Linked DNA regions of Homo sapiens. The protein of the gene in region 1 purifies or fractionates together with the protein of each later gene. This does not show direct contact. Each region holds a gene or a part of one and is shown on either strand. Other genes may lie near its edges.

Region 1 (3,519 bases):
TTTCAGAAAAGTTAACCCCTGCGTTGCTTCGACCCCTTCTCTCCGGGGAGGGTTGGGTAAATGTCTCCGAATCGCCTTGAGAGAGAACTAAAGAAGGTTTGTTTCTAGGGTTTTGTGTCGGTAGAAGGTGAGAAGAGTTCTCCGCTAAGATAAGCAAAGAAGAAACACCCTCCTCCCCAGGTTTTGAACATCGTTTTTCCTGTTTATCAGATCTGCTCTGTCTCCTCCAAGCCTCGGCTTATTGTTCCTGCTTCTCCACAACCCTTCTGGTCTGAGGGGGCAGGCCAGATCCCACTGCCTAGAAGACCCAGAAGAGGAGGAGCTGGCAGGAGGGACTGAGCCCAAGCTTCCCCTTCTGACTCTGTGGCTAGACTAGGAGCTTCTTGGAAGGCGGCGACGAGGGTGGCTGCCCAAAACATTCTGCCTGGTTCTAGTATGCAGCTGCTCACCCTTGGCAGGGGAAGGGGCACTGGGGAAAGGGACTAGCCCTCTCCTCACTTGGTGATATGGAGTGAAGGAGTGAGGGGTATCCCTCAGCCTAGGTGGCTTTATTTGTCTGATCCCTATCCTGCCTGCAACCCTCACTCCAGTACCCTCTACAATCCCAAAAGACTTAAGAATAGCCTGGGCTATAGGATTTTCAGGAATCAGGGATGTCCCAGTAAATCTGGGCACAAGGAAGAAATCATTCTTCTTCCAGTTGTGGGCTTTGAACCCTCCTGATAGTTGAGGCAGTCAGAGACCACTGGGAAGAAATGCATCCTCACTCCTCTTCTAAGTCTCTGTAGGAGCTGCCAGTTCTTTTTAAAATTAATTCTTTCCCAAGACTTGGTTTTTGCTTTAGTTTGATAGGGAGAGAAGGTCGTTTGCGTTCTCTTGGGGACTCAGCAGGCTGCTTCCAGCCATCAGCCAGCATCCCCTCTCCCTTCTGTCTGTATCTCAGCATCGCTACAATTCCCTCCCACACCCCGTGTTTGTATCATCAGCTTTGCCGCCTTACAAATTTAGGTGTGTCAGAGAATGTATGTCTCTGGCTCTTTCATCCAAGGAAAATAAGCATTGAGCCCAGGCTGGGAGACAGGGCCACAGTGCATTCCCAACATTCTAATATACATACACAGGCCAAGTAGTGAAGGGTGACAACCTTCACACCTGGGGACAAGAAGGGGCCAGGGCATGGAACAAAGTCAGATGTCAGGCCAGGCTGACCCTCCTCTGCCTTGTCCTTCCTTTGGGCTCCTTTTTCTGGCCAAGTTCTGCCCACTGAAGATGGTACAAGACACTAGGGAAGGTGGCAGGGGACTGAGCTTGGATCACCAAGGGTGGGAACTTATTTGGTTGCAACGTGGTCTCCAAGGCTCTCTAAACTCAGGGCAACTTCTTGGCTGTACCTTAATGGCAAAATAGCCATCCCTAGATGGCCTCCAATTACTTCCTAACCTGACTCTGTGGGAGTGTTTGATAAGCATTTAAGAAAACAAATTTAAACCCCCTGATAATGAAGAAGGATAAATATTCCATATCTAGGTATGGCTGGGCTTGCTTCTAGAGAGGACTAGGGGCCATTTGAACAGGGGGAGAAAAGTGGGAGAGAGTACCTGCATGCACCTCCCTGCCTACTGCTGAGGCTGAGCCCTGGGCCTCAGCCTTCCCTGCCTCCTCCCTGCCCACAATGTCTCCATCCTAGCACTAAATAGTGTGGTTTTCTCAGTGAAGTCTGAACAAAATAAGATCTGGTGAGGAAGGGAGCATTTCCCTGTGTCAGAAGCAGGGAAATAATTGCCTTATCTTTAGAGTCACAGCCCCCAAATTAACCTCACCTCTGCAGGTTGCTTGTCTGGAGATGGAGCCACTACAGGCGGGCCTGGGCGCCTGGAGTCGGGCATGAAAGAAAATAGCGCCTCATCGCTCTTATCTAAGCCCAGAGGTATTTATGAGCGTTTATTCGTCTGATCCGTTTGTTTGGGAAAAAGAGCAGGCGGGCAGGGCAGGCCAGAGACCGACTCCTTTCTGGAGCCAGATCCCTACGAATCTGTCTGTGGTTCGGTCCACCGCCCTCTGTCTGTCTCCTTGGGGGAATATGTAAATACACAGCGGGCTCAGCCATCCGCCAGTCTGGGGTGTCTCTCCCTGCCTCAATGAGGAAGTGTGTGTTCAGAGAGATGGATAGAAGTGTGTACCAATTCTTGAGTACATAACAGAGGGATTGTACAGATACCCCACAGGCAGGATTTATAATTGTAATTTTCTATGCTGTGAGTCTGCAGTCCTGTGGGCAAGCTAACACATTCCAGCTCCCAGGAAAATGTTTCCTAAGTTGTGTTCAGTTCGGGAGTAAAATTCTTGATAGGTAACCTCAGGAGGGATATTTGCGTGTGTGTGTGTGTGTGTGTGTGTGTGTGGTGTGGTGTGGTGTGTGTGGGAGGGTGCTGAGACATTGTCCAGGCTTCCAATTTCCTCTAAGCTATAAAGCCCTCTCCCTCAGCTCTTTGAGGTGATGAGCACCTTCTCCCACCACCCCCAACTTTGGCTGGGGTGGGGTGGGATGAAAATATTTCAACTCAATTCTCGTCCTGGACTCTGTTTCTCTGGGTTTGGGGAACATAAATAAATGTTCCCAGGGGTACTGAGTGATCACTCCCATAGGTTGAGGGAGGCTGTTTAGATGAGACACTTTGCCCTAAAATCGGCCCCTCCAAATCAAAGTACAAAGACTTCATTTTCATTATGCAAAGGAGCGGCATCCTCTTTGATCTTTAGGGGAGTGAGCAGTAGTGCTGAACCCACTCTCCCGGTTTCCTACCCGCAGGTCCAGGGGACAACCTGAGGGCCCTGAAGTGTTTCAATACCATGTACCAGCTTGACTTCTCTACATGTCCTTTGGATTGCCCAAAAGCAAAATCTCAGAGGGGCCAAGGACCTTCTAGGGCTGGCTCCCTCAGGGCCTCCTATAGAGCAGCTCCTTGAGTCGGGCCTTATAGCCACCAGAAAGTCACCTCGCCGCAGGAAAGCTATAAAGAGCTGCTCCAGAGGCGCCGAAAGAGGGTGAGGGCTGCAGCCACAGTGTTTGTCCCCAGCACCACCAGGCCCCTTAACCTCGTCAGCTCCTCTAGCCCTCGGCCAGACTCTGGCAACACCTTGGTTTGCCTGGCACCGCAGGCAATTTCCTGGAACCCCACCCCCACCCAGGAACGGGGACCACAGCACCTTTAAAGGAACTGCCAGAGCTTCCTCCTACGGCTTGAAAGCCCAAGCTAATCAGTAACCCGTGAGACAGGGGCCAATATTCAAACGCTGCAGCAGAGGCGCATAGCCTAGCCCTGGCCACCCCCTCTTGGGAAGGAGGTCGAGTTAAGCCGGTGTGGAGGGTCCAACAGGAACGGAAATTACGACGGTGTGGTTCCTTAAGGATTTGGCCCCAGTCCCACTACCAAATTTTTCCCAAATCATATTTAGGTAGACTTCGCTTGAAAAGATCGAGAATGGAGGAGGGGATCGGCACTCACTTGCAGACATCAA
Region 2 (3,651 bases), on another chromosome or scaffold:
ATAAAATGATGGCAGAAGTACAAACCAGATTTAGAGAATTGAGTGCTTGCAGTCAAGCAGAATGTACCTCCTGCAGAGACAAATCTTCTGCATGAGATTACTGATGCTTCACTTGCACTCTAAGCTGGAATCCAAACTCTGGTTTGTCTCTTGAAAATTTGACTCTATAAAACTGATCTGATTTTCTGTTTTTAAAAATAAATATATTTTTGGAAAAAAAAAATATCTGGCTTCCCAAATAAAACTTTATAAGTGAATCTCATCTCTAGCTATCTCCTAGGATGAATGGAGATATAACAGTTGTCTTCAAGGGTGAAGAGAAACATTTTTACATAGGAATAACCTAATCGTATACCTTTGGTCGGAGCTCTAAAGAATTAGGAAGAATGTGAAAGACTGGCTGGCTTTGTGGGCTACTATCTCTCTCTAGCTTTTAGAGTTTGGTTTTTCAGAATATTTCCAATCATCTTGCACCTGCTCCATAAAAACATTCCCAAGTGCCACCCCATTTAAAATGTCATTATCATACCTGTACAGGTAATAACAATGTCCACTTGTCGGATGACCTCATTTAATTTCACCAGTCGAAATCCATCCATACTGTTGAAATAAAGCATGACCCATTAACCTAAACAGGCAGCTGGGGAGCCTTTTAACACAGGACTTCAAAAGCTAATATCAAGTTGCTGTCATTTCTTGAGATAGCTGAACTATTCTTAGAAGTGAAAAATCCAAACAATTTCCTTAGTTCATACAAGACAGAAATAAAAGGTTCGTTTGCATCACGGAACTTATTTCTTCCTGATAATAGGGAGCCAGGGGCTACCATGAGATTCCCTGACCAAATTTCTAGAAACTGTAGAAAGTGCCACTTAGCCATTTAACCAACTACCCCATTGAAACTGCTCTCTCCAAGATCATCAGTGATCCCCCGAAGGCCAAACCCAAGATTTCTTAGACTCTTAACTGTGTGTGTTTTTTTTTTTTTAGAGATGGGATCTCACTATGCTGCCCAGGCTGGAGTGCAGTAGCTAGTCACAGGCATAATCATAGTGCACTACAGCCTCTAACTCTTGGCCTCAAGCAATCCTCCTGCCTCAGCCTCCTGAGTAGCCAGGACTATTGGCATACACCACCATGCCCAACTTCTTAGACTCTTATATTATTTGATTTCTTCTACTACATTAAACATTATTTGCCTTCTTAAAACTCTATACCCCTTGGACTCCATGATACATCTCTCCTGGTTTTCCTCTTACTTCTCTTAATTGCCTCTCCTCAACTTCAGCCAACCTTTGGATATTGGTGCTCTGCAGGGTTATGCCTTTATTCTTTTCTCTATTCTTTCAGTATAGAGAACCATACTCTTCCTTTGGCTGCAAATGACTGCTGATAGATGGCTGATTTTTACATTTGTAACTTTAGCTTAGATCTCTCTGAAGCTTCATAGCCAAGGATCAAATTAGCCACTGGATAGCACCTCATCAATGTCCCAGAAGGATCTCAAACTTACTGTGTTTGAAAATAAACTTATTATTTTCTCTGCACCCATAATCTCATCTATTTCTTCTTCTATATTTTCTATCTTGATCAATAGCATCACTGTTCATCCAACTGAATGAGCCATATAAACAAGAATGTCCTTGCTGCCTCTCCTGAATTGAAGTTGTCACCAAATCTGGGTGACTCTTTTTCTTTAATTCCATAAACGTCTCTTTCATCTCTCTACTCTTCTCTAATACATACTGGCCTTGCTTAAGTTTAGGTCTTATTACTTCTTGCCTAGATTACTATAGTAACCCCTGGCCCAATCTCATTGCCTCTAGGTTTACATCTTTCTAAATCATTTGGCAGAGTGATTTTCCTAAATGCAATTTGGATCATGTCGCTTCCTTTCCTTAAAATACTTCAGTGAGACTGCCTGTTCTTAAGGATAAGACAGGATAAGAGTAAGACCCAAATACTTACAGTGATATGTGATTATATTGACATATGACTCCCATGACTCCTACCTTAGATAGTACCACTCCCCCAAATGTATTTCATCTGCCAACTACATTAAAATATTTCTAGCTTCTTAAATCTGCCATGCTATCTCCTTCCTTGGAGACAACACACATGTTCCCAGTACCTGGAATATACTTCCAAACTAAGAAAACACCTATACAAATGTCAAGACTCAGCTCTGCTGACATCTCTTTCTACCCTGCTCCCTTGCTCTTCAGTAAGCAATTTCTCCTTTATGCTCCTACAGAAGCATGTGCCGTTTAACTCCATGACAGCACTTACTTTGCTGCACAGTGGTTATCTGTCTGTGTGCTTCTAAAAGCAGGACCTTATCTCATTTATATATTCATCTTATTCATTCTCAGCACATAGCACAGTATCTAATGCATAGTAAGTGATCAATTCGTGTCTACAGGATAATCTGAACAGGATAATCTGAACTGTTCAGTATCTGAACAGTATCAATTTGTATTAAAATATGTTCAGGTTCCTAAACTCTTAGTGTACCAGAAGGATGATGGTTCCCCTAGGCTACAGACACTTGGACTCTGCAATAGTTTTTAAGAACAGTGGTATTTCCCACCCTGCTGAGGATGGCAAGAGACAATTTTAATAACAGCTATTATTTAATGAGCATATATTATGTGGCAGCAGCTCTGTACCTTATATAATTATGTATTTGTTATATAATGTATAATATAGAATAATAATTATTTTGAGACATGGTCTTGCTGGGTCACCCAGGCTGGAGCGTAGTGGCATAATCACAACTCACTGCAGCCTCCACCTCCCAGGCTTAGGTGATACTCATACTTCAGCCTCCCAAGTAGCTGGGACCACAGGCATGCACCACCACACCCAGCTAATTTAAAAAAATTATTTGTAGAGATGGGGTCTCCCTATGTTGCCAAGGCTGGTCTCGAACTCCTGGGCGCAAGCAATCCTCCTGCCTCAGCCTCCCAAAGTGCTGGGATTACAGGCATGAACCCATTACACCCAGCCTATGCTAATTATTATTTTACTGAACTCTCACAATCCTATGAGGTAGGTATGATTACACACATTTTATAGATAAGAAAAGTTTTAACTTTTAATTTTAGAATCATTTCAAACTTAAGAATTATAATACTAGTGTAAATAATTCTCATATATGCTTCACTCAGAGTTAGTAGATTTTACCCTTAACTGGGATTGGTCTAATGTTTCCTCACAATTAGATTCAGGTTATACATTTTTGGGAGGAATACCACAGAAGGGCTATTTTCAGTGTAACACATCAGAAGGCATCTGATGCCTGCCAATTTCTTTTCTGATCATTATTTGAAAGGCAAGTATCATACATGGAGAAGGTAAGGGGCTACCTGTTCTCTGGCTGACAGAATCCCTGTTACTATCTCCACAGGATTTCTAAATTTTCGCTTTTCTGATAGTCTCTGCTCTCTCCAAGCAGAGCTCCTTGACCTTTTTAAAAGACAGATGCTTAGAGTTAGTGGCAGCATCTCTGAGGATCTGGGCTCCTCTAAAATAAAGTGTGGCATCAACCAGGCCATTCTTTGGAGACAGCTCCGAGATTGCAAGTGAGATGGTAGCGTAGAGGCTTACCAGGCTTGCAGGGCACAGATGGGGTCAATTTCAGTTACATAC
Region 3 (3,651 bases), on another chromosome or scaffold:
ACCAATTTCCCACAGCTGACCCTCTCAATCCCTTATTGGAGACACTCACTGGGTAGTCCCCAGGGGGGCCCCAGTTCCCGGCGGGGCCCCGGTGAGGTGGGGGTAGGGGAGGCTTTGGGGCAGGAGGTCCCGGCTCTGTCTCTGGAGGCCGAGAGGTTTCTGCCCAGGCCGTCTTAGGAGTGGGCGGTTCGCTGTTGGGGGAGTTGCCCTTTTTGCCATCTGCTTCAGGGGGCCGTTCCTCACCAGAAGCTGATTGGGAATCCCTGCTGTGAGCAGATCAACAGTGAAATTAAAATCAGCTGCAACTAATATACTCCTCTAAGAGTATATTACCAAAATACAAACCAAGACCCCCTCCTCTTCTCCCCTGATGGCCCTAACTCACTGGCCCTCAGCACCCTCCTCATCAGAGTCTCGCCCATCTTCCTCATCGCTGAACTTGAGCTTTTCAGTGTAGTCAACCTCTTCATGGGCCCCTGAGGGGAAATATGAGTATTAGTAACCCAAGCATTCTGCCCTCCAATCTTGGGAGGTAGTCTGGAACTATGTAACAAGATGGACTACCAATGCCAATATCCTTCCCTCCGAAGTCTAGATCCACCAATGAAGTCTTGTCATTCTTACTCCTCTCACCACTTTGCAAGGACTTGGTATTCCCCATCCATCCTCCCCTACTCTTTTTTTTTTTTCCTTTTAAAAGTCTCGCTCTGTTGCCCAGGATGGAGTTCAGTGGCACGATCATAGCTCACTGTGACCTCCAACTCCTGGGCTCAACTGATCCTCCCACCACAACCTCCAGAGTAGCTGGGACCACAGATGCACAGTCCACACCCAACTAAAAAATTTTTTTTTTTTTGTAGAGGTGGGGGGTCTTGCTGTGTTGCCCAGGCTGGTCTTGAACTCCTGGCTTCAAGCGATCCTCTCACCTAACACTCCCAAAGCACTGGGATTACAGATGTGAGCCATTGGGCCTGGTCTTCCTACACTTCAATGTCTGCCTTTCACCCACATAACCCTGTATTTTTTTTTCCTCATTAGGTTTTGCCTTTCAAGATCCAAATTCTTGACCCTTAATATCCACTTACCTGCCCAACCATCATCATTCTCCTGATCCAACTGATCAAACTCTTTGAGATTATCCTCTTTGAGAATAGAGGGACGACCCACAGGCTCTACTAAGCGCATTGGTGGCCCTGAGCCTCGGGGGCCCGCCACACGGGGAAAACGGCTGTACACAAAAAAGAAAATGAAATATGGCATGTTGTATAACCACATGCGAGACTGATCCTAGACTGAGCCTCCTGGCTAGAAAACCATCTCCTCCCCCAATAAGCTTCCCCTGCCCCCAGCCACAAACCCAGACCTGGATTGCTCACCTGGGCCCATCAGGAGTGGGGTATCGGTAAGGCCCCTGGGGTCCATAGGGCGGAGGGAACGGGAGATATGGGGGATACATCTGTAAAAGGGTCCAACAGTAGCTGCTCAGAGGGACAGTCATATACCCTTCTAGCTCCTTAAGCCTGCTATCAATCATCCTCCCACCCTCCCTTCTATCTCATAGGTCAAAGACTAAGTCCTGATTCCTAGCTCTCCAGCTTCCAGTGTAATCGTTCCAAGACAAGACACCAAGACTCACGAAAGGCGGCATCATTCCGCGGTAGGGAGGGAACTGGGGTGGGCCTGAAGGCTGTAGCCCACCCCGGGGATCATGACCATGATGAAGTTTGGAGTCCGGGCCCTCCAGCTCATCAGGGCCACGCCCACCTCCGTCCCTCCAAGTTGTAGAATCTGTATTTTGGAAAAGGTAGAGAGAGGTATCAATGATTGGAGGACAAGTGAACACAGCTGAAAGTGATGGGGAGGAAGGTGAATAAGCCAGCACCTAGCTCTGAGATGCAATAGGTAATGTCTTGGCCAAAAGGCAGCCACTCACTTTGGGGGCGGAGGCTTGGTCCGGGCCCAGACGACTGTTCGGCAGACTCCCTTTCCTTGGCAGCCTTGTCCTGGTCGCCAGCCGCCTGCAGGGTCGGAAATTCCTCTCGAGAGAATCGTGACAGTAGGCTTGATGCCCTTCCACCTATTAGGATGGGGATGCAGAACAGGAGACAGAAGACATTTCCTGAGGACATGCTATAAAAGTGGAAGACTCTGGCTGGGCGCGGTGGCTCACGCCTGTAATCCCAGCACTCTGGGAGGCTGAGGCGGGCGGATCACGAGGTCAAGAGATCGAGACCATCCTGGCCAACATGTGAAACCCCATCTCTACTAAAAACACACAAAAAATTAGCTGGGTGTGTTGGCGTGTGCCTGTAGTCCCGCTACTCTGGAGGCTGAGGCAGGAAAATCGCTTGAACCCAGGAGGCAGAGGTTGCAGTGAGCCGAGATTGCGCCACTGCACTCCAGCCTGGGTGACAGAATGAGACTCCGTCTCAAAAAAAAAAAAAGTGGAAGGCTCTGACAGGTACCAGACCATCAGGTTTCCCGCCTTCAAACTCACCCCCCTACAGAATAACTGCTTATTCCCCAAGGAGGTCAGTTCTGGCACCACTACACTCCATCATATAAGACTGAGACTTAAACTTGCTCATGTGCCTCCATGAAACTGAATATGGGTGGTCCTTGATTTAGCCAAAGAGGACCAAGGTCACTTGGCTGAAAATACAGTGCAGGGTTCATGCATCCCATGGTGCCCAGACACAGCTCCCCAATTAAGTGCTGCACTCACCATCTCCATGTGCTCCATGGGTGACGCTGGCTTGTGCCCAGGACTTTACCCCGCTTGGAACCAAAGGAGTGTTCTGGGGAAGTGTTCAGAAAGATGATAAATGATGTGGGTGGGGCAGCTATGAACCATTCTTCCTCCCCACCCCTCCAGTTCTCCAGGTACCTCGGGGGCTGCTGGGGGTCGTTTCGGCTGGTTGGAGGCAGGCGTCTGTGAAGCCGGCAGTGGCTGCGATTCCGGCGGCTGAGCGGTTGAGGCATCGGAACTGAGGGGACAGAATGGGAAGGTTATTCACACCTGAGATGCCTCCCTGACTTCTCCAACTGGTGGAGACTCAGGACTGAAATCATGCCCATTGCTACCATTTACAAATATAAGGACAAATTAATTTTGTCATCCTTTGTAGGCTGTTGTCTATTTTTTCATGCTCTCTCTCCAAGACAAAAAGCTAAAGTTTAGTACCATTCCTTAGTCATTTAACAAGGAACCTGCAATAGGTAAGAAAGGGACCTCTTCGTCTCTGGCTCAGACGTGGCTGGACTAAACCAAGCCCCAATGCTCCCTGAAGTTCAAGTTAAAATACCCATCACTCTAGGTCCCCCAAGCCTCTGTCTACCTCTTGGGGTCGGACTGCTCCTGTTTGCTTGCCCATCCTGTTCCGTCTTTTGGCACTAGTGAGACATTGGGGTCATTGCCTTTGTTCTCGGCTTTCAGGCTTGGAAGGTTGGCTGGAGGTGGCATACGCCGGGCAATGGCAACTTTCCCGAGACTCTGCAGGCCATGGCGAGGGGCAACTGGAGAACAAGACGGAGAGAGGGTCGAAAATGCCTCATGTGGGAGATCTGATGGCCTCCTATCCTGGGACACATTTATACATGTTGAATATTTTATTACCTACTTCCTCCAAACTTCTCTTAGAAGGGATTCCT

What was found.
Region 2: the proteins of HOXB6 (region 1) and AHCYL2 purify together in Homo sapiens (affinity purification with mass spectrometry; 2 studies listed by BioGRID and IntAct, with this or other methods). This does not show direct contact.
Region 3: the proteins of HOXB6 (region 1) and PRRC2A purify together in Homo sapiens (affinity purification with mass spectrometry; one large-scale study listed by BioGRID and IntAct). This does not show direct contact.

Annotation. Positions count from the first base shown.
Region 1 is NC_000017.11:48,598,619-48,602,137, forward strand, and holds part of HOXB6 (homeobox protein Hox-B6), read right to left. Parts: exon of another isoform or gene 3,457-3,519; intron 3,046-3,456; exon of another isoform or gene 2,810-3,045; intron 1,928-2,809; exon of another isoform or gene 1,829-1,927; intron 1-1,828. UniProt on the Homo sapiens protein: Sequence-specific transcription factor which is part of a developmental regulatory system that provides cells with specific positional identities on the anterior-posterior axis.
Region 2 is NC_000007.14:129,406,425-129,410,075, reverse strand, and holds part of AHCYL2 (adenosylhomocysteinase 3), read right to left. Parts: coding exon 3,610-3,651; intron 601-3,609; coding exon 530-600; intron 219-529; exon of another isoform or gene 1-218. UniProt on the Homo sapiens protein: May regulate the electrogenic sodium/bicarbonate cotransporter SLC4A4 activity and Mg(2+)-sensitivity. On the contrary of its homolog AHCYL1, does not regulate ITPR1 sensitivity to inositol 1,4,5-trisphosphate.
Region 3 is NC_000006.12:31,623,597-31,627,247, reverse strand, and holds part of PRRC2A (protein PRRC2A), read right to left. Parts: intron 3,517-3,651; coding exon 3,339-3,516; intron 2,988-3,338; coding exon 2,888-2,987; intron 2,799-2,887; coding exon 2,726-2,798; intron 2,078-2,725; coding exon 1,934-2,077; intron 1,789-1,933; coding exon 1,637-1,788; intron 1,457-1,636; coding exon 1,377-1,456; intron 1,229-1,376; coding exon 1,086-1,228; intron 477-1,085; coding exon 386-476; intron 267-385; coding exon 50-266; intron 1-49. UniProt on the Homo sapiens protein: May play a role in the regulation of pre-mRNA splicing.